Linked DNA regions of Homo sapiens: regions 2 and 3 are each linked to region 1. Evidence: fine-mapped expression QTL. A gene starts in region 1. Each other region holds a variant in brackets. All regions are shown on one strand. Distances are between the middles of the regions. Region 1 holds the start of VWF (von Willebrand factor). Region 2 has its middle 9.2 kb from the start of CD9. Region 3 overlaps LOC124902866 (a long non-coding RNA gene).

The links. PIP is the estimated chance that this variant, and not a neighbour inherited with it, causes the effect. A credible set is the group of variants that fine-mapping cannot tell apart.
Region 2: its variant is the best candidate, but not a certain one, in a credible set for the expression of VWF in whole blood (TOPMed, PIP 0.57).
Region 3: its variant is the best candidate, but not a certain one, in a credible set for the expression of VWF in whole blood (INTERVAL, PIP 0.82).

What each region holds. Positions count from the first base shown.
Region 1 is chr12:6,122,513-6,129,972 of GRCh38, forward strand. It overlaps VWF (von Willebrand factor), which reads right to left and starts at 2,158. Exons shown (of 52, transcript NM_000552.5): 1 at 1,909-2,158; 2 at 630-684. The coding sequence starts at 684.
Region 2 is chr12:6,187,498-6,194,957 of GRCh38, forward strand. No RefSeq gene overlaps it. Among named protein-coding and RNA genes, the nearest start is that of CD9, 9.2 kb to the right of the region's middle. RefSeq lists enhancers at 2,900-3,585, 3,586-4,271 and a silencer at 6,599-6,648. The variant A/G (reference allele first, on the strand shown) is at 3,543.
Region 3 is chr12:6,154,274-6,160,503 of GRCh38, forward strand. All of the region lies in intron 1 of LOC124902866 (a long non-coding RNA gene), which reads right to left. Among named protein-coding and RNA genes, the nearest start is that of VWF, 33 kb to the left of the region's middle. RefSeq lists an enhancer at 4,744-5,317. The variant G/T (reference allele first, on the strand shown) is at 3,094.

The DNA.
Region 1 (7,460 bases):
ATGCAGAGAGTGTGACAAATGTGTATTTTTTTTCCCAGACTCACCTGTGGGCAGTAGCTGGATGCTGCTGACCTGAGAGATCTAAGTGGAAAGCGCCCAAGGTCAAAAGTCCCCTCCCGCCATTTGCAGACCCAGAATCTTAGCAAGGGAAGGGCAGCAGTATGATGCAGTGCAGTGGAAAGGGTGTTGGCCTGGAACCCAGGAAGACTGACCTCTGATTTTGGCTCTAGGAGACTTTGGAGCAGTCATTTCTCCTCTCTGACCCTCAGTCTCTTCATTGTACCATGGGAGGTTCAACAAGGTGACCTCCACAATCTTATCGAAAACTAATAATCCATCCAAGTCTTGGATTCCTTCCTCCTCATCCTGTGCCCCCATAATATAGGACAGTTCTGTGCCACCTTTATGCTTCTTAATTCCCCAACAGGAGATGGCATTTGCAGGCACCTGGTCTCTGGAATACAAGTCAAGGGTGGGAACTCCGCAGAACCTTCACAGGAGGCAACCAACAGCCTAAGTTAGGGCTGGGCACACAGGTGAGCTCCAGACACACCTGCTGATTCCCGGAAAGGTGTCACTCCAGATGGCCCTGGGGCAGGAATGAGAAATGGAGGCCCTTTTGTACCTACCTGGCAAAATGAGGGCCAGAGCAAGCAGCACCCCGGCAAATCTGGCAGGAATCATCTGCAAAGAAGCAAGAGACGTGAGCTGGTCATTGCTGCCCAGGTAGGCGGCTGCTGGTGTGGCGACTATCAGGGCATGCAGTAGCAAAAACATTTCTTTAAAGCAGGAGAAAAGATTGATCCTCGTGACCCCCTTTTCCCCTTTGAACATGGACTTCTGGCCCCCGAAAAAACCCCTGGCCAGTGCCAGGCCCAAGGGTAACAATCGCTGTGAGCTGGGACCTGTGGGCACCTTTCCACAGACAGCAGTCCCAGGCCCAAGACAGGAGGAAAACGCTGCCTTCCCTCCAGGCCCGCTGGGCCTCACATCCCTGCCTCCTGAAGCAGCTGGGAGCTAACACACACCTCATTCCTTCCTGCCTCTGCATCCAAACTGGCGAGTAGGAACCGTCTTACACTTGTGTGCCCACCACAGCAGCCCAGACATAGAGAATGCTCAGGAACCACCAACTTGACGGTTTGCTTGTTGGCCCCTGACTCTGTACCACAAGTGCCTTCACAAGAGCAAAGGCTGTCTCCCTTGCCTCCAACCCCAGCACCTGGCAAGATGCTTAGCACCCAGGAGATGCCCAGCAAATGTTTGCTGAGTTCATCTGAAAAAATGGACAGGAGTCCAGCGGCCCTGGATGCAGGCAGACTTCCCCACTGTGTGACCCCCAAGAGAGGGACAATTCATCCTGGCTGGCAGAGCGTACCCCAAGTCACTTAGAGCCCCTGCTGTAGCCCCTCTCCTCGGGAAAAGTTGTTAAATGAAGTGCAGAATCTGCTGCCTGAGATTCACTGGGGGTGACTCCCTTCCTACCTAAGGTCCCATCCAGCCAAAGGTGAAATCAAGCCAATCTGTGATACATCTGTGGAAGGAACACTGAGATGTCAGATACTGCCAGGTCTCGGTCTCCAAGCAGGTGTCCCCTCCCAGTCCTAACACGCAGGTACATTCAGCTGCTCCCAGGTTCTCAGAGGTGAGGGCAAACTTCATTCCAACTCATTTGAGTGAAGTACTATCAAACAGTAAAACCCACTGCATGAAGAAAAGCAGCCCCAGGACCCTCAGAGGCAAGTGGAGGAGGGAGTATTAGGATCATCCCTGGCTGAATTGAATTGCCCCTCCAAACAAAGCCCTTCTAGTCCAGCGACAGAGAACTCCAGCTCCCCAGGAGCAGGGATCAGTCAGTCCTGCATCTTCCTCCCACAACTGAGCCAGCTCTCCTTCCAAAGGCCATACCTTCCCCTGCAAATGAGGGCTGCGGCTATCTCCAAGGTCCCTGGGAAACTCAGCTGCTGGACAATGGTGCCGCCCACCCTAGGCCATGCTCTCAGCTGCTGCAAAGGCTCAATCAGGTCTGCTACAGCTCCGGACTGTCTTGCTGTTATGTAGCCCAGGGGCTGTGGAGTCCCCACTGCTGGGGGAGATAAAGCCCAAGCTGTGACATCCACCAACCACCCTCCCTTTCCCACCACAATAGCTGTGAGCTGCCACAACAGGGGATTGGCCTCCTTTTAATTACCAAAAGGAAACAATGAAAGGAAATGGTATTAGAAGTACCTCCAAGCTGATAAAGCTTTGTAGAGTTTGGAGGGAGACCTCCTGGCAGCTGCCTTAATTAACTGCCTTGCCCTCCCCAAACACCCCCTATCCCTACACCCCCACACTTGATCCCTGGTCTTCCTAGAGTGCCCCACCTGTGTGGGATAACCAGGAATGCTGGTTGTTTCAGGGCAAGCTGATACAGGCCAGGGGGAATCACAGTAGAACAACACAGCTTCCTGATCCAGCTTCCAGGGCTGGACTCCAGGGAAGTTGAGAAAAACACCTCAACCTGAGCCAATTTTGCTGCTGTGTTTGGAGGAAGGGGAGTACTAACACTTCCTATGCACCCCAGGTATGAAGGATCCGGTCCTGGCCCTGACAAAAACAGTCCATTTGGATCCTGGCCAGGGTTGAATGGATCGGCTAAAGATGAAGGTCTTGGCCACAAGCCTAAGCCTTTGTAAAATGGTGAAGGTGGGGAGTGATGGTTTGAGTCTAATACTTCTACTGTTGCTACATTCTAATAATTCTAATTCTCAAGGACATTTCCACCCACTTCTGGTACCCTGATCTTACACACACACACACACACACACACACACACACACACACACAATTCTTCTTCCCAGCCTCCCATTCCCAAAAGCCTAATTCTCAACACCATCTGCTAAACTAATTCCTACTAAAATAAGTAACTGATGCAATGGGCAGCGGTGGGGGGAAGATGACTCTCGTGCTGGGATTCCAGGCACTGAGACAAGCACCCTGAGGCATGTCTGGGTATGGAAGACCTCCTCACTGCTTCTCCATGATACCTCCTGCCCTAAGACTTTGAGAAACCACTAGGTTCCAACCTCCTCCCTTCCCACATACCTCGCACTCTGCTACTCCCTTTACCGCCCCAGGAGAGGAAGATGCACACTCCCAAGGAAGAAAAATGGCACCAGAGGCAGAATCAGCATGAGACAGTAGAAAAGGCCATTGGGGGGCCGGGCACGGTGGTTCACGCCTGTAATCCCAGCACTTTGGGAGGCCGAGGTGGGCGGATCACGAGGTCAAGGGATCAAGACCATCCTGGCTAACATAGTGAAACCCCGTCTCTACTAAAAACACAAAAAATTAGCCAGGCGTGGTGGCGGGCGCCTGTAGTCCCAGCTACTCGGGAGGCTGAGGCAGGAGAATGGCGTGAACCCGGGAGGCGGAGCTTGCAGTGAGCTGAGATCGAGCCACTGCACTCCAGCCTGGGTGACAGAGCAAGACTCCGTCTCAAGAAAAAAAAGAAAAGAAAAGAAAAGGCCATCGGGATTTCCACTTCCAGCTCTTATTTAAAAAAACTAAATAACTAATCTGAAAACCCTTTCATTACAAAATATCTTTAAATGCTGTGCTAAATACAACAAATGTTCTTTAAATCCACAGTTGATCTGGGAGGAAAGTAAGGAATATCTTAAAGGGTCAATGAGGAAGAGGAGCCTAAATGAGCATGAGGCAGGGTAGGCCCATGGGTGGCCTAGCGTAGGCCAGTCTGGGAACCCTCCAGACTGGAGGCCGCACATTACAAGAATGGGCAGTGCAGCTACGGGCCTGACCCAGAGGGAGAACTAGAACGGAGATCCCTGCAAAAGCTGAAAGTTTGAAGGGAAACATCTTCCAAACAGTGGACCAGGAAAAAAATCCATCCCCCAACCTAGAAGATAAGGAAGTTTGCCTGTCTCCACTTGTTTTGGGGTGGGGTGGCGGGGGGAATTAAGTCTTTTTTTAGAATATTCTTTTCTTTCTTTTTTTTTTTTTGAGATGGAGTCTCGCACTGTCCGCTGGGCTGGAGTGCAGTGATGCAATCATGGCTCACTGCAACCTCTGCCTCCCGGCTTCAAGCAATTCTCCTGCCTCAGCCTCCCAAGTAGCTGGGATTACATGCACACACCACTACACCCAGCTAATTTTTTGTATTTTTAGTAGAGATGGGGTTCCACTATGTTAGCCAGGCTGGTCTCAAACTCCTGACCTCGTGATCTGCCCACCTCGGTCTCCCAAAGTGCTGGGATTACAGGCGTGAGCCACCACGCCCAGTCTAGAATTTTCATCCTTTGCACTCATGCAAATAAAGCTCTCTTGACGATGAATTCAAAATCACAAATTTTTCAACACTTGAGAAAACAATCTACCATGAGCAAGAATTAAATCCCTAAGAATTTCAGATAATAAAATCATCAGAGAAAGATAAAAAGAAAAAAATGAGTGTTTAAAATTATAATAGAGGCTAGGCACGGTGGTTCATGTCTATAATCCTGGCACTTTGGGAGGCTGAGATGGGATAATCGCTTGAGACCAGGAGTTCAAGACCAGCCTGGGCAACACAGCAAGACCCTGTCTTTACAAAGAATAAACTTTTTTCAAGGCAGGGCACGGTGGCTCACGGTGGGTGGATCACAAGGTCAACAGATCAAGACCATCCTGGCCAATATGGTGAAACCCCATCTCTACTAAAAATACAAAAATCAGCTGGGCATGGTGGCACGCACCTGTAGTCCCAGCTACTCTGGAGGCTGAGGCAGGAGAATCGCTTGAACCCGGGAAGCGGAGGCTGCAGTGAGCCAAGATCATGCCACAGCACTCCAGCCTGGTGACCGAGTGAGAGTCCGTTAAAAAAAAAAAAAAAAGAAAGAACAGGAGGAAAACTTGAAAAAGAACTTTAAGGCCAGACGTGGAGGCTCACACCTGTAATCCTAACACTTTGGGAGGCAGAGGCAAGAGGATTGTCTGTGCTCAGTAATTTGAGACTAGCCTACACAACACAGCAAGACCCCATCTCTACAAAAAATAAAAATAAAAAATTAGCTGGGCCTGGCGGTGCATGCCTGTGGTCACAGCTACTCAGGAGGCTGAGGTAGGAGGGAGGACCCCTTGAGCCCAGGAGGTTGAGGTTGCAGTGAGCCATAATCGCGCACTCCAGCCTAGCCAATAGAGTGAGATACTGTCCCAAAAAAAAAAAAAAAGAACTTTAAGAAATGTATATAGTAAATTAATTGAAAAATTCAAAAACACCAGATATTTTTGGGAAAAAAAAAGCTGAAAAATGGTTCTAAAGAAATCACTCAAATATAGAGATGAAAAAATGGAAGAGCAGCCAGGCACAGTGGCTTATGCCTGTAATCCCAGCACTTTGGGAGCCCAAGTAAGGCAGATCACTTGTGGTCAGGAGTTCGAGACCAGCCTGGCCAACGTGTTGAAATCCCATCTCTACTAAAAATACAACTATTAGCCTTGCATGGTGGTGCATGCCTGTAATTCCAGCTATTCAAGAGGCTGGGGCAGGAGGATTGCTTGAACCCAGGAGGCAGAGGTTGCAGTGAGCCAAGATCACACCACTGCACTTTGGCCTGGGTGACAGAGTGAGACTCCATCTCAAAAAAAAAAAAAAAAAAAAAAAAAAATGGAGGCAGAATTAAGAAACATGATAGAATTAGAAGATCCAAAGAGAAGTGCTGAGAGAAGAAGTCCATTTGTGGAGAATTCTATATGCAGTGTCTTAGTTTGAAGTCCCAGAAGCAGACCCTGAGTATTTTAGTGTAGATAATTGATTTGGGAGGACAGGAAGCATCGGCAGGGAAGTGGGAATGTGATACGGGGCAGGGAAAGCAGTCAATAAAAGATGTTTATTATGCCAGCCACCAAGTGGACAAGAAAGCTTCCTTCTGGAGGGAAGTCTGGGAAAATGTAAGATCCATGCCTCTGAATCTTCCCACTCTTGGGTCAGGGAGCAGGAGAGTTTCTACACTTACTCCTTCCTGTCAGTTATTGTCAAGGCTGCTTCAGGAGGCATTCAGCCCTCAACACTTCTGGCCCTCAGGCACGGAGGAGCAGACACTGGTAGTCTAGAAGAAACGGAGAGATGGGGTTAGAGGGCCGTGGCAGAGGGACTGTAACATCTGGTCTACCTGTAAATTATTGTTCAGAGTTGAGGAAACATAGACTTTTTTTTTTTTTTTTTTTTTGGAAAAACAGAGTGGGCTTAACATTAACAGTCCTTTCTGAAGAAACTACTAAAGAAGGAATTTCAGGGAGAAAAAACATTTTTTGTTATTGTTTCTGAGACAGGGTCTCTGTCACCCAGGGTGGAGCGCAGTGACACAGTCACAACTCACTGCAGCCTAAACCTTCTGGGCTCAAGCGATCCTCCCACCTCAGCCTCCCTAGTAGCTGGGACTATGGGCATGTACCACCATACCTGGCTAATTTTTGTATTTTTTTGTAGAGACAGGGTTTTGCCATGTTACCTAGGCTGGTCTCAAACTCCTAGAGCTCCTGGGCTCAAGCAGTCTTCCTGCTTCGGCCTCTCAAAGTGCTGGGATTACAGGTGTGAGCCACCTCGCCCTGCCAGGAAGAAGAAAATTCAGCCTAGAAACAGGATGCCAAGAAAAGGTAAATAAATAAAATAGTAAATCTGGGGGTAAATATGAGCAGGCAGTCATTATATAAAACAATAACAATGGTAATGATAAGTTGGAGAGTTATTAAAAATTAGAACCAAAATACCAGATAGCAATGACATGTAAGACAGGAGTGAAAGTGTATTAAGGTCCTTGCATGGCTCAGAAGGAAGAAACAGGTCATGATCACTTTAGACTTAGTTAAGGCTATACTGCATAGTAAGATTTTAAGGGAGGCTACTGAAAGAATAGAATTGAATGTATGTTTTCCAAACCTATCGAAAAAAAACAAGAAATTTTTAAAAACTAGATTGATCTAGGAGAAAAATGGAAAAAGCAAGACAAATAGTATAAAATGTAAATGCAACAGTACAAAAAATTCAAACAGATCAATAATCAATAATAAAAAGGTAGAGATTATCAAATTGGATTTCTTTAAAAAGGCACACAATCCAGCAATGTTCAAGAGACAGTCCTAAAATATAAACACACAAAGACCGTAAGGAAAAGAAAGGAGAGGCAAGTGATGGCCAAGGAAAAGCGTTTTATACCACTATCACACACAGTGGACCTTAAGATCAAAGTCATCATTAGCACCAAAGAGTAGAAAAAGGTGATACAAAGATCAATGCACCAGGAAGATGGAATCTATAGATTTATGTGCACTTCATAATATAAGCTTAAAATTTATTTTTAAAAACGATTAAATTATAAAGCAGAAAAGCTTTCAGTTTTGTAAAAGTCAACAACACCCAGTTATGGAAAACAAGTAAACAAAACACTTAAGTAACCTATAAAAAGAAGGGAAGGTCCTTG
Region 2 (7,460 bases), 65 kb after region 1:
AGAGTTCGAGGTATTTAGGGAAGTAGAGCTGTTAAAAGCTAGAGCAGGCCAGGCATAGTGGCTCACACCTACAATCCCAACACTTCAGGAGGCCAAGGCGGACAGATCCCTTGAGTCCAGGAGTTGGAGACCAGCCTGGGCAACATGGTAAAACCCCATCTCTACAAAATATACAAAAATTGGCTGGGGGTGGTGGCGTGCACCTGTAGTCCCAGATACTTGGGAGGTTGAAATGGGAGTCTCGTTTGAGTCTGTGAGATCGAGGCTGCAGTGAGCCATGATCTCACCACTGCACTCCAGCCTAGGTGACACAGTGAGACCCTGTCTCAAAAATAAACAAATAAAACCAGCTAGAGCATATAAGGTGCCAGAGTGGGAAATCAGGTGCTGGACGTCAGCAGAGGCTGGTTTACAAAGGCCCGTGCCACACAATGAGGTTCAGACTTCCTTTGTCTTTAGGCAGTGACTCCATGGCCATATTCTCCCTCTCTCTAAACCCTTCCCACAGGCCACAGGTAGACATTAGTGACAGCTTCTTACCTTCACTGTATTTTACCTGCCCATATCTACCTGAACCTACAGACGAAAGTCCCATCTCTTATACACAGACACACATGCAGACACGTGTGCACACACACACTGGCCCTCTAGGGGGACCTTTGTCCAACCCACCCCAGATACAGCTGGGAGAGACAGCGACCCTGCCTCTGGGTGCTTATAGTTTCAGGAGCATCAGCCAAACATTATATGAGACACAAAGAAACTGTCAGCAAGATAGATTCAGCAACTTCGTTTGCCCTTTGATATGAATAAAACCTTCTCAGGACCAGCTTAGGCTAAGCTGTGTGGAAATGGGAAGCAGGCATAGAGCTGAGCCCAGTGGCCCCCAGCACTGCCCTGTCCCCACCTGTGTCTTGCTACGGCTGCCTGGTCAGTCCTGCTCTCAGATATCTGGACCCCTGCAACTCCTCACTTCCCTAACTCTTCCTCGCCTTGTTACCATCTAATGATTGGCGTCCACCACATCCTATATCACCAGTTAGGAGGTGAGTTTCTCATGAGCAAAACTAGGGCGTGGCTTATCCTGGGCACCTCCCACAGCCTAGCACTCAGGTGCTCAGTAAATGTGGGGTGAACAGGACCTAGCATGCTGGGCAAAGACACTCAGAAGACAGAGCTGAAAATGCTCATCTTGCCAACATTCTCCAAGACTCCAAGCCTTGGGGCTATTTAGCATTTTATAACAACCAAGTCCACTACTCCTGTACTGAGATTAAAATTGAAAATCAAGTTTATAAGCACCCTTATAGTTTACAAAGCACTTACACATCCAGGATTTCATCTGACTCTCTTACAACAGCAAAGTAGGAGTTTTTACTAAGCCCATTTTGTGGATAACGAAATGGAGTCTCAGAAAAGCAGAGACTTGCTCAGGTCATCTCTGCTCCCAGGTAAGTATGCAGTAGGGCTTGCACCTGTGACTTCTAATTTCAAGCCCCATGCTAATTGCCTACAGCTTCTCTACCCTCTTACGCAGGAAATACCACAAATACATAGCCCCCAGAGTCCCTGCTCCTCCACCTGAAGCCAGAACCACCAACCAGAACAGAAGCCAGCAGCCACAGAGTGAAGAGAAGCTGCAGCTGCTACCCATGGGCTGGCATTGCCTACCACTGAGCCAGGGGCAGGCTGCCTGGGCACATACCCGCCCATCCCCACCCCTCATGGTGGAGAAAGAGCAGTAATCATCCTCGCTCTGCAGCTGTGGAAAGCGAGCCTCAGAGGAACAGACAAGCACCAGCAAAGGCAGGACCCAATTGCAGGCTCACCACCTGTCAGCAGCCCTAAGACTCAGAGTCGCCTTGCAGGGAGGCACCTTCAAGATGGCACAACTGCTGAGGAGTCATCTGCAGCCCCTTCACCCACCTCTACAGTCAAAGGGCAAAAACGGCAGTGTAGTGCCAGTCCACATTTACCTACCACAGGAAGCAGCAGCTTAGCACCTGGGCTCTGGAACCAGGCCACCTGGGTTTACATCCCGGCTCTGCTGCTTCCTAACAAGAGCATGAACCGCCTGTGACTTGGCTTCCCCATTTGTAAAACTATCAACCTCAAAGGGTTGTTTGTGGATTGAGTTTATATACAGCAGTTAGAACAGCATTAGTTACATCTTATGTACCCATGCAAGTGTTAGTTCTTCAGACCTACTACATTAAGTGTCTGGAAGGTACCTACTGTGGGTACAACAGGAGCTGGTAATCTAGCTGGAGAGTATTTATTTATGGGGAAGGAGTCTTGCTGTGTCGCCCAGGCTGGAATGCAATAGCACCATCTCAGCTCACTGCAACCTCCGCTTCCTGGGTTTAGGCAATTCTCCTGCGTCAGCCTCCTGAGTAGCTGGGATTACAGGCACCTGCCTGAAGGGATGGGTTGCTCCTCCACACCTGTGGGCACTTCTCATTAGGTGGAACGAGACTTGGAAAAGAGACACAGAGACAAAGTGTAGAGAAAGAAAAAAAGGGGGCCCAGGGTGTGTCTGGAATTGGTAGGTCCTTGGTCTCACTGACTTCAAGAATGAAGCCACGGACCCTCGCGGTGAGGTGAGTGTTACAACTCTTAAGGTGGCGCGTCTGAAGTTTGTTTTTTCTGACGTTCAGATGTGTTTGGAGTTTCTTCCTTCTGGTGGGTTTGTGGTCTTGCTGGCTTAAGGAGTGAAACTGCAGACCTTCGCGTTGAGTGTTACAGCTCTTAAGGCAGCAAGTCTAGGAGTTATTCGTTTCTCCCAGTGGGCTCATAGTCTCACTGGCTTCAGGAGTGAAGCTGCAGACCTTCGTGGTGAGTGTTACTGCTCATAAAAGCAGTGCAGACCCAAAGCGTGAAAGAACAAAGCTTCCACCACGTGAAAGGAGACCCGAGCGGGTTGCTACTGCTGGCTCACGCAGCCTGCTTTTATTCTCTTATCTGGCCCCACCCACGTCCTGCTGATTGGTAGAGCCCAGTGGTCTGTTTTGACAGGGCGCTGATTGGTGCGTTTACAATCCCTGAGCTAGACACAAAGGTTCTCCTCCTCCCCACCAGATTAGTTAGATACAGAGTATCGACACAAAGGTTCTCCAAGGCCCCACCAGAGCAGCTAGATACAGAGTGTCAATTGGTGCATTCACAAATCCTGAGCTAGACACAGGGTGCTGATTGGTGTGTTTACAAACCTTGAGCCAGATACAGAGTACCGATTGGTGTATTTACAATCCCTGAGCTAGACATAAAGGTTCTCCACATCCCCACCAGACTCAGGACCCCAGCTGGCTTCACCCAGTGGATCCCGCACCAGCGCTGCAGGTGGAGCTACCTGCCAGTGCCGCGCCCTGCGCCCACACTCCTCAGCCCTTGGGTGGTTGATGGGACTTGGCACCGTGGAGCAGGGGGCGGCGCTCATCGGGGAGGCTCGGCCGCACAGGAGCCCACGGAGTGGGTGGGAGGCTCAGGCATGGTGGGCTGCAGGTCCCGAGCCCTGCGCCGCGAGAAGGCAGCTAAGGCCCAGT[A/G]AGAAATCGAGCGCAGCGCGGGTGGGCCAGCACTGCTGGGAGACCCAGTACACCCTCCGCAGCCGCCGGCCCGGGTGCTAAGCCCCTCATTGCCCGGGGCCCGCAGGGCGGGCCGGCTGCTCTGAGTGCGGGGCCCGCCAAGCCCACGCCCACCTGGAACTCCAGCTGGCCCGCAAGCGCCGCTCACAGCCCCGGTTCCCGCTCGCGCCTCTCCCTCCACACCTCCCTGCAAGCTGAAGGAGCCGGCTCCGGCCTTGGCCAGCCCAGAAAGGGGCTCCCATAGTGCAGCGGCGGGCTGAAGGGCTCCTCAAATGCCGCCAAAGTGGGAGCCCAGGCAGAGGAGGCCCCCAGAGTGAGCGAGGGCTGTGAGGACTGCCAGCACGCTGTCACCTCTCAAGGGGACCAGCGTTCAGCATACGGAGGATCCCGCCAGCCTCTGAGTTCCCTTAGTATTTATTGATCATTCTTGGGTGTTTCTCGGAGAGGGGGATGTGTCAGGGTCATAGGATAATAGTGGAGAGAAGGTCAGCAGATAAACACGTGAACAAAGGTCTCTGCATCATGAACAAGGTAAAGAATTAAGTGCTGTGCTTTAGATATGCATACACATAAACATCTCAATGCCTTACAGAGCAGTATTGCTGCCCGCATGTCCCACCTCCAGCCCTAAGGCGGTTTTCCCCTATCTCAGTAGATGGAATATACAATCGGGTTTTACACCGAGACATTCCATTGCCCACCTTCCTCTTGTCTCAACTGCAGAAAGGTGTTCCTTCCTCTTTTACTAATCCTCCTCAGCACAGACCCTTTACGGGTGTCGGGCTGGGGGACAGTCAGGTCTTTCCCTTCCCACGAGGCCATATTTCAGACTGTCACATGGGGAGAAACCTTGGACAACACCTGGCTTTCCTAGGCAGAGGTCCCTGTGGCCTTCCGCAGTGTTTGTGTCCCTGGGTACTTGAGATTAGGGAGTGGTGATGACTCTTAAGGAGCATGCTGCCTTCAAGCATCTGTTTAACAAAGCACATCTTGCACCGCCCTTAATCCATTTAACCCTGAGTTTGACATTGAGATTAACAGCATCTCAAGGCAGAAGAATTTTTCTTAGTACAGAACAAAATGGAGTCTCCTATGTCTACTTCTTTCTACATAGACACAGTAACAATCTGATCTCTCTTTTCCCCACACCCGCCATCATGCCCAGCTAATCTTTTTTTTTTTAGACGGAGTCTCACTCTCACCAGGCTGGAGTGCAGTGGCGCAGTCTCAGCTCACTGCAACCTCCGCTTCCTGGGTTCAGGCGATTCTCCTGCCTCAGCCTCCTGAGTAGCTGGGATTACAGGCACCTGCCACCACGCTCAGCTAATCTTTTTTTTTTTTTTTTTTCTGAGACGGAGTCTCGCTCTGTCGCCCAGGCTGGAGTGCAGCGGTGTGATCTCAGCTCACTGCAAGCTCTGCCTCCCGGGTTCACGCCATTCTCCTGCCTCAGCCTCCCTAGTAGCTGGGACTACAGGCGCCCGCCACCACGCCTGGCTAATTTTTTGTATTTTTAGTAGAGACAGGGTTTCACTGTGTTAGCCAGGATGATCTCGATCTCCTGACCTCGTGATCCGCCCGCCTCAGCCTCCCACAGTGCTGAGATGATAGGCGTGAGCCACCGCGCCCGGCCGCCCAGCCAACTCTTTTAAACAGATGCATGAAACCTGAAATTATCACCCAGGACAAATCTTGTAAGAGTCTAGTGGATGATTCAGAAAGAAGTTGCTACAGGAGTGTCCTGAGAAAGAGGATCAGAGCAGACTAAGATGACTGAGGGTGCTGGGGAAGGCAGGGGCTGGGCTGGCCTCAGAGATGGTGCAGGCTGCTTGAAGGGCAGAAAGGAGGAAGTGCCAAGAGCTTGGGCTTCGGAAAGAAGAGGTGGGGACCCAGGCATAGAGCTGGGGATGCATGTGGTATTCCAAAAGAGTGAACAGATTTGCAAACAGAGGTTAAGGCGAGAGAGCAGAGGGCCTGTATGATGATCTTACAATTGAGACATCGGCTTTCCATACATTCAATAAATATTGTGCACCTACTGTATGTCAGGCACTGTTCAAAGCCCTTGGGATACATAGAGAACAGAACAGCCATGCGGATTTTGCATTCTAGCTGGAGGAGACAGGTAAATAGCAATGCACATACCAAGGAAACATTCCACTCTGTGAGAAGGTAAATGCTATGGGAGCATTGTTTGGAAGTAGAACAGGGGTAAGGGGAGTTGGGAGATCTTTGAGCAGGAAAGAGTAAAGCTGAGCTTCAGGAGTCTGATGAAAGGATGATATTAAATATTGCTTGTTTAGAATTGCTCCCCGCCTGCCCCCAACCCCCATATACTAAGGAGGACAGACCCTGAGAGCCATGATTTGTTTTGCTGAGCAGGGTGAGGGGAGGTGGGGACACAAACGGAAAATGCCAAGTTTAGAGCTAAATTGCTCCACACAGACATATGCAGAGGACATCCACAGGGCAGGGGGCTGGCTGAGGCTGGGCTGGGGGGCAGATGATAGGGGTGGCTGCCACAGATTGGACGTTTGAGAAGAGCTATCCAGAGGGATTCTTAGAATGGTTCTCTCTGGCATATGAGAGGGAACCCCTCATCCACCTATCCGTGAAACCTTCATAAAATCCACACTGGACATAGGCAGTTTCCAGGTTGAGTGTGTGTGTGCTTAATGCAAGGAAAAGAAGTGATGGGTGAGAGGAGGGCAGCCCACCCCCAAGGACGCACGCAGCAAGACTCTCTGGGTCCAATGTTGTGTCCATCCTGGGCAGGTGAACAGCAGCGAGGCAGGGCAAGGGTAGAACAGCCGTTTGGGCTGCAGATGAGCTTCCAGGATGCAGCCCCCTTGCGGATGGCAGGGCATCAGGGGGAACAAAAGATCAGGATCCAACCCTGGACTGAAACCAGAAGCTCTGAGGTCTGATCTGTGCTCTGCCACTCAATCACTACAACCCGCCTTAGCCCTGGTGCCTCCCAGCAATGACGTAAGAACAGCTAAGAAACAGGAATCACATTCACTAAGCAGCTGTGAGGCTGGGGGAAGGAGGAGCCCCAGGTGATGGGAGGTGTTGGTGCTGACTGATTAGAGACAGGGAGGGCTGAGGAGAAAGTCAGCTGCGAGCCTAGAAAGCCCTTGGAGATTATGAATTCTGATCTTGATGTTTACATTGAGATTACTATATTTCCTATTGCTTCGGTAACAACCACAAATTTAGTGGCTTAAAGTAACACATATTTACTATTTCACAATTCTAGAGGTCTGAAATCTAAAATGGGTGGGCAGGGCTGTGTTGGATCCCTCTGGCAGCTGCAGGGGAGAATTCGTTTCTTCGCCTTCTCCAGCTTCTAGAGGCTGTCCTTGTTCCCCAACACACAGCTGTGCATCACTGCGACCTCTGCTTCTGTCGTCACATCTCCTTCCCTGGCTTTGACACTTCCACCTGTCTCTTATAAGAACCCTTTGGATTCCACTGGGCCCACTGGGATGGTCCAGGCTATGCCATGGAAAGTAACACATTCACAGTTTTGGGGATTGGAACGTGGGCCTATTTGGAGGGCCGTTAGAAGTGGAAACGGGCCAGGCACGGTGGCGCACGCCTGTAATCCCAGCACTTTGGGAGGCTGAGGTGGGCGGATCACCTGGGGCCAGGAGTTCAAGACCAGCCTGACCAACAGGAGGAAACCCCATCTCTACTAAAAATATAAAAAATATAAAAAATATAAAAAACACGGTGGCTTACGCCTGTAATCCCAGCACTTTGGGAGGCTGAGGTGGGTAGATAACGAATTCAGGAGTTCAAGACCAGCCTGGCCAATATGGTGAAACCCCGTCTCTACTAAAAATACAAAAATTAGCTGGGCATGGTGGTGTGCGCCTG
Region 3 (6,230 bases), 31 kb after region 1:
AACAAGCAAAAGTAAACAAGTAAAGTTTGTAGATACAAACATATGTGATGAAGCTTTTTTTTTTTTTTTTTTTTGAGACAGAGTTTCACTCTTGTCGCCCAGGCTAGAATACAATGGCGTGATCTTGGCTCACTGCAAACTCCGCCTCCCGGGTTCAGGTGATTCTCCTGCCTCAGCCTCCTCAGTAGCTGGGATTACAGGCGCATGCCACCACACCCAGCTAATTTTGTATTTTTAGTAGAGATGGGGTTTCACCATGTTGGTCAGGCTGGTCTCAAACTCCTGACCTCAGGTGATCCACCCGCCTCAGCCTCCCAAAGCGCTGGGATCACGCCCGGCCGATGAAGCTACTTTTTTAAAGCAAGGAAATAACAAACACCAAAACTCAGGGTAATAGCTATCTCTTCAAGGGAGACAGGCATACAGAACAGGAAAGAACACATAGGCACATACAACCCTGTTGATAATGTTCTAATTCTTAGATGGGGTAGTGGGTTCACAGATGTTCATTTTGTTAGCATGTCTCATAATACATACTTTGCATTTGTTATTTTATATATAAAATTGCTAAAGAAGAAAAAACTCCCTCAAAGAAAACAGCCCCCACTTAGCAACAGTTAGGAACAGTAAGTCCTCAGTTATAGAGGGTGAAAGACAGCTTCTTCAGCAGCCAATTTCCAGCTGAATTTGACTTGAGCTGCTAGATTCGGTCAGAAGCCTGGGTGGGCAAGATGTGAAGGAGAATCAAGCCAAAAGGTGGAAGCTCACTCTGTACCCTGGGAAGTAGAGAAGGGCAGAGGCTTGCCCAGTGCCACACAGCTCACTGATGGAGAGTCAGGGTTCGCGGACTGACCAGTGACGTACAAGGAGCCAGAAGGGAAGACGTGAGGGGTGGCGGGTAGCACCGAGGCCGGCCAGGCCAGGCACAGGACTGCAGCCGTCTCTGGCATGCGGCCCAATGCTGATCACAATCAGATTCCCACCAGAGCGGAAGAACAGGACCCCGCCAGCACCTCCCAGATCCAGATCCAGGCTCAGACAGGAACCAAGCAGAACTGCTATCATCTTTGCGGATCAGGGTTCCTGAAGATTAAGGAACCAGATGTTAGGGCTAGAGAAAAAAAGGGTGGGGGCCGGGTGCTGTGGCTCATGCCTGTAATTCCCACACTTTGGGAGGCTGAGGCGGGCGGATCACTAGGTCAAGAGATCGAGACCATCCTGGCCAACCTGGTGAAACTCCGTCTCTACTAAAAATACAAAAATTAGCTGGGCGTGGTGGGCGCACGCCTGTAATGCCAGCTACTCGGGAGGCTGAGGCAGGAGAATCGCTTGAACCTGGGAGGCGGAGGTTGCAGTGAACCTAGATCGCACCACTGCACTCCAGCCTGGTGACAAGAGCGAGATTCCGTCTCAAAAAAAAAAAAAAAAAAAGGGTGGGGGGAAAAATTTCCCTTTAGGGTGGTTGTGAAGAAAAGGGTACCAGGTTCACCCTGTAGAAATACTGCCCTTGGGGCTCTCTTTTTATCCTATCCTACATCCACCAGCCCTTAGCCTAAGGCTGCCTGCTGCGGTTTGAGGACAGGACAGACACCTTCCCACTTATCCATCAATTTCTCTAATGTCATCGGTAGCACCCAGTGTCTAGTTTAGGTTTTTCTACCCTCCCTTCTCCGATGTTCTTATGGCACTACAGATGCTGGGAACAGTTCTGTATCTATATGTCGTGCCTCATTTTATGATTATTTGCCTCATTTCATGATTATTGCATTCCCTTTGGAGGGCTGTCAGCGTGTGAAAGTCAGGCCCATGTCTAACTTCTTTTTTTTTTTTTTTTTTTGAGACGGAGTTTCGCTCATCACCCAGCTGCAGTGCAGTGGCTCGATCTCGGCTCACTGCAACCTCCGCCTCCCGGGTTCAAGCGATTCTCCTGCCTCAGCATCCCGAGTAGCTGGGATTACAGGCGCCCACCACCACGCCTGGCTAATTTTTTTGCATTTTTAGTAGAGACTAGAGTTTCGCCATGTTGGCAAGGCTGGTCTTGAACTCCTGACCTCAGGTGATCCACCCGCCTCAGCCTCCGGAAGTGCTGAGATTACAAGCCTGAGCCACCACGCCCAGCCCGTCTAACTTCTTTTTATTCCCTAGCAGCTTATTCAGAATATTATGCATAAAATATCTCAATATTGATAAAATGTAAACTGTTTAAATCTGGGGAAGAAGGAAAACGCTGTAAAACTATTATTGCCAGCCACTAACCCTTTGGTATAAATTAGCTTTCAGAAGTTTTTTTGAGGTATATTTTGTTAAGGAAATTCAAAGACAGTTCAAGGAAACTTTCTTTTTAATTATAAAGTTTCTTGAAGCAAAAGGGGAAAACAATATGTGTTTGTTCAGAGAAGGTTTTTTGAGCGGGGAGGAGACAGGGTCTCACTGTCACCCAGGCTGGAGTGTAGTGGCAGTATCACGGTTCACGGCAGCCTAGACCTCCTCAGACTCAAGCGATCCTCCCCCCTAAGCCTCCCAAGCAGCTGCGACTACAGGCACAAGCCACCTCACCCAACTATTTTTTTGTATTTTTTGTAGAGACAGGGTTTTGATATGTCACACAGGCTGGTCTCAAACTCCTTGTCTCAATTGATCCACCCATCTCAACCTCCCAAAGTGCTGGGATTACAAGCATGAGCTACTGTGCCCAGCAAGAGATGATTTTTTTTTATCATGATTTACTCATGTCCTAAAATACTACAGAGACATTAAAAATAACGCGATCTCTACAGACTGACATGGAAGGATATCAGACATGTTACTAAGTTGAAAACAAAACAAAACCTTGCAAAACATTTACAGCGTGATCTTATTTTTGTTAAAAACAAAATTTTTAAAAATACACACATCTGTGTTGTGGAAAAGTTCTGAAAAGATATCAATGAAATAATAAACAGTTATTTCCCCTAGGGCATGCTTTTTAAATGTATAATGTATATGGATTACCTGAGGGTATTGTTAAAAATGTTAAAATTCAGATCCTGATTCAGTAGAGCTGGTGGGGCCTAAGAATCTGCATTTCCAACAAGCTCACAGGCAGTGATCCTG[G/T]CTTGCAGAGCCAGTTTTTACATTTTCAGGAATTTTGTGGCTCTGTTGTTAAATACATTCATTATTAAATACTAAAGTATATATAATCATCGTAAAACAAGTTACATTTAAGACAGAGATAACGACTCAAAACTCATACTTCCTAATTATTTTATATTTTACTATTATCTATACCCTTGAGGTTATACATACCAATGTCTGTATCTGTGTGATGGAAATGACACATAATGGTGTGTTACTGTGAAGTCTTCCCAGTTTTCCATTGAGTAACATCACATGGGTGGCATGGAATCTGACACGCTGGAAATAGTTACACCACAGAAATTGGCAGACACTACAGATCATGGCTTTTCTTCCAAAGAGTCACTTGTTAAACATTGATCAACACACCACTGCTCCCAGGCACACAGCACCAGCCTAGGACACGAAATTGATGTGGGGAAAGATATTTGGTGTTTTTTCCCTTTTATTTTTTGTTGACGATAATTGTCCATTTTTTATGGGATTCAAAGTGGTATTCTGATACATGCATATGATGTATATTGATCAAATCAGGGTAATTAGCATATCTAACATCTTGAACACCGATCACTTCTTTGTGCTGGGAACACTTAAAATCCTACCTTGCAGCTTTTTGAAACTATACTTGAAACTATTGTTAACTACTTTCACCCTACAGTGGTACAGGACACTAATGCTTATTCCCCTCAGCTTAGCCAGCTGTAACTTTGTATCCATTAACCAGCCTCTCCCCAATGTGGGGAAAGGTTCTATGAGTGAGAGGAGGAATGGGTGCTGACCAGGAAGGCTATGAACATTAAAGATGAATTTTTCTACACCAAGATTGTCTGTATTCCTAGCTCGTTGGTAGCATGGAGTACTTAACAAGTATTTGCCAACTAAGAGAATGAATCAATGCTGGCTGTGAAGAGAACCAAGTAAAGTTTCCGTTGGAAAGCACAGGAAGCCCACTTCACTCCCACAGGAGCTGGGGATGAGAAAGAGTGGGGGTGGGTATCTGCTCCTAGGGGGCCCTGGCAGGGGAAGCCCAGGACTGGCCCTCTTGCTGACTGGCACCTCAACATTTCCTGTACGGTTTTAGTTGCTGCACCTGAGAGGCAGTATGTACTTAACTCCTCCCCTGGAGGTCAGCAAGAGAGGCCCACGGCTGCCCAAACTACTGGCCAAATAAACAAACAGCCAGGCCAGGAAGCAGACAGCGGGGCCCCAGTAGACTCTGGGACTGCAGCAGCAGCCACAAAGTCTGGAAAAGGCTGAGCCAGAACCCACACCCCGATCCCTTTTCTCCCCCCCAGCCCCTCCCCTGCCACCAGAACCTTCTGTCTAATGCTATCTCTCCCTCTATCCCCTGCCTTACTCCTCTGACCCCTCTGGGCAAAGTTCCATGATTAATGGAACCATCCATTCCTCAGCTCCTGCCCTTTCCCTTGCCACCAATCCGAACTCTCCAGAACTGAGGTCAGAGCAATGGCCTGGCTGGCCCGGCGGCCATCTGAGCAGACCCAGGCCAAGCACTCCCTCCCCGTCACTCTCCGAGTATCAGGTCCAGCCATCCCTCCTCTGAACGCCATGCAGGGGCAGCTTGGCTTCTGGGCTCTGCACAGCAGCACATCCAGCACACGCCACTCAGCGTCCTATAAGCGTCTACTGAGCCCCGGCTGTGTGCTTGCTGGCATTGCTGTCGAAAGTGGAGGTACAGATTGCCAGACAAGACACACAAAGAGCTTACACTTAATGGAGGGAAAAAGCCAAAAAACAAGAAAGCAAATATAAATCAGATGGTGATAAGGGCTAGCAAGAGAATAAAGTAATGTAAGGGGGACAGCAAGTGACAAGAGTGGGTGGTATTTATGCAGAATAGCCCCGGAGGGCCTCTGCGACAGGTGCCACTTGAGAAGAGACCTGATATTGAGAGGTGACAGCGTGCTGGCAGTCCTCACAGCCCTTGCTCGCTCTCGGCGCCTCCTCTGCCTGGGCTCCCACTTTGGCGGCACTTGAGGCCTTCAGCCCACCGCTGCACTGTGGGAGCCCCTTTCTGGGCCGGCGAAGGCCGGAGCCGGCTCCTTCAGCTTGCAGGGAGGTGTGGAGGGAGTGGCGCGAGCGGGAACCGGGGCTGCGCGCAGAGCTTGCGGGCCAGCTGGAGTTCAGGGTGGGCGTGGGCTTGGCGGGCCCTGCACTCGGAGCAGCCGGCCAGCCCTGCCGGCCCCGGGCAACGAGGGGCTTACACCTGGGCCTGCAGCTGCGGAGGGTGTACTGGGTCCCTAAGCAGTGCCGGCCCACCGGCGCTGCGCTCGATTTCTCGCCGGGTCTTAGCTGCCTCCCCGCGGGGCAGGGCTCAGGACCTGCAGCCCGCCATGCCTGAGACCCCCCTCTTCCGTGGGCTCCTGTGCGGCCGGACCCTCCCCGACGAGCACCGCCCGCTGCTCCACTGGCACCTAGTCCCATCGACCACCCAAGGGCTGAGGAGTGCGGGCACACAGCGCGGGACTGGCAGGCAGCTCCACCTGCAGCCCAGGTGCGGGATCCACTGGGTGAAACCAGCTGGGCTCCTGACTCTGGTGGGACCTTGGAGAACCTTTATGTCTAGCTCAGGATTGTAAATACACCAATCGGCACTCTGTATCTAGCTCAAGGTTTGTAAACACACCAATCAGCACCCTGTGTCTAGCTCAGGGTTTGTGAATGCACCAATGGACACTCTGTATCTAGCTGCTCTGGTGGGGCCTTGGAGAACCTTGTGTGGACACTCTGTATCTAGCTAATCTGGTGGGGAGGAGGAGAACCTTTGGGTCTAGCTCAGGGATTGTAAACGCACCAATCAGCACCCCGTCAAAACAGGCCACTCGGCTCTACCAATCAGCAGGATGTGGGTGGGGGCAGATAAGAGAATAAAAGCAGGCTGCCCGAGCCAGCAGTGGCAACCCGCTGGAGTTGGCTTCCCCAATGTGGAAGTTTTGTTCTTTCTCTCTTTGGGTGCACGCTGCTTTTATGAGCTGTAACGCTCACTGCGAAGATCTGCAGCTTCCCTCCTAAGCCCACAGAGACCATGAGCCCACCAGGAGGAATGAACAACTCCAGACACGCCGCTTTAAGAGCTTGTAACACTCACCACGAAG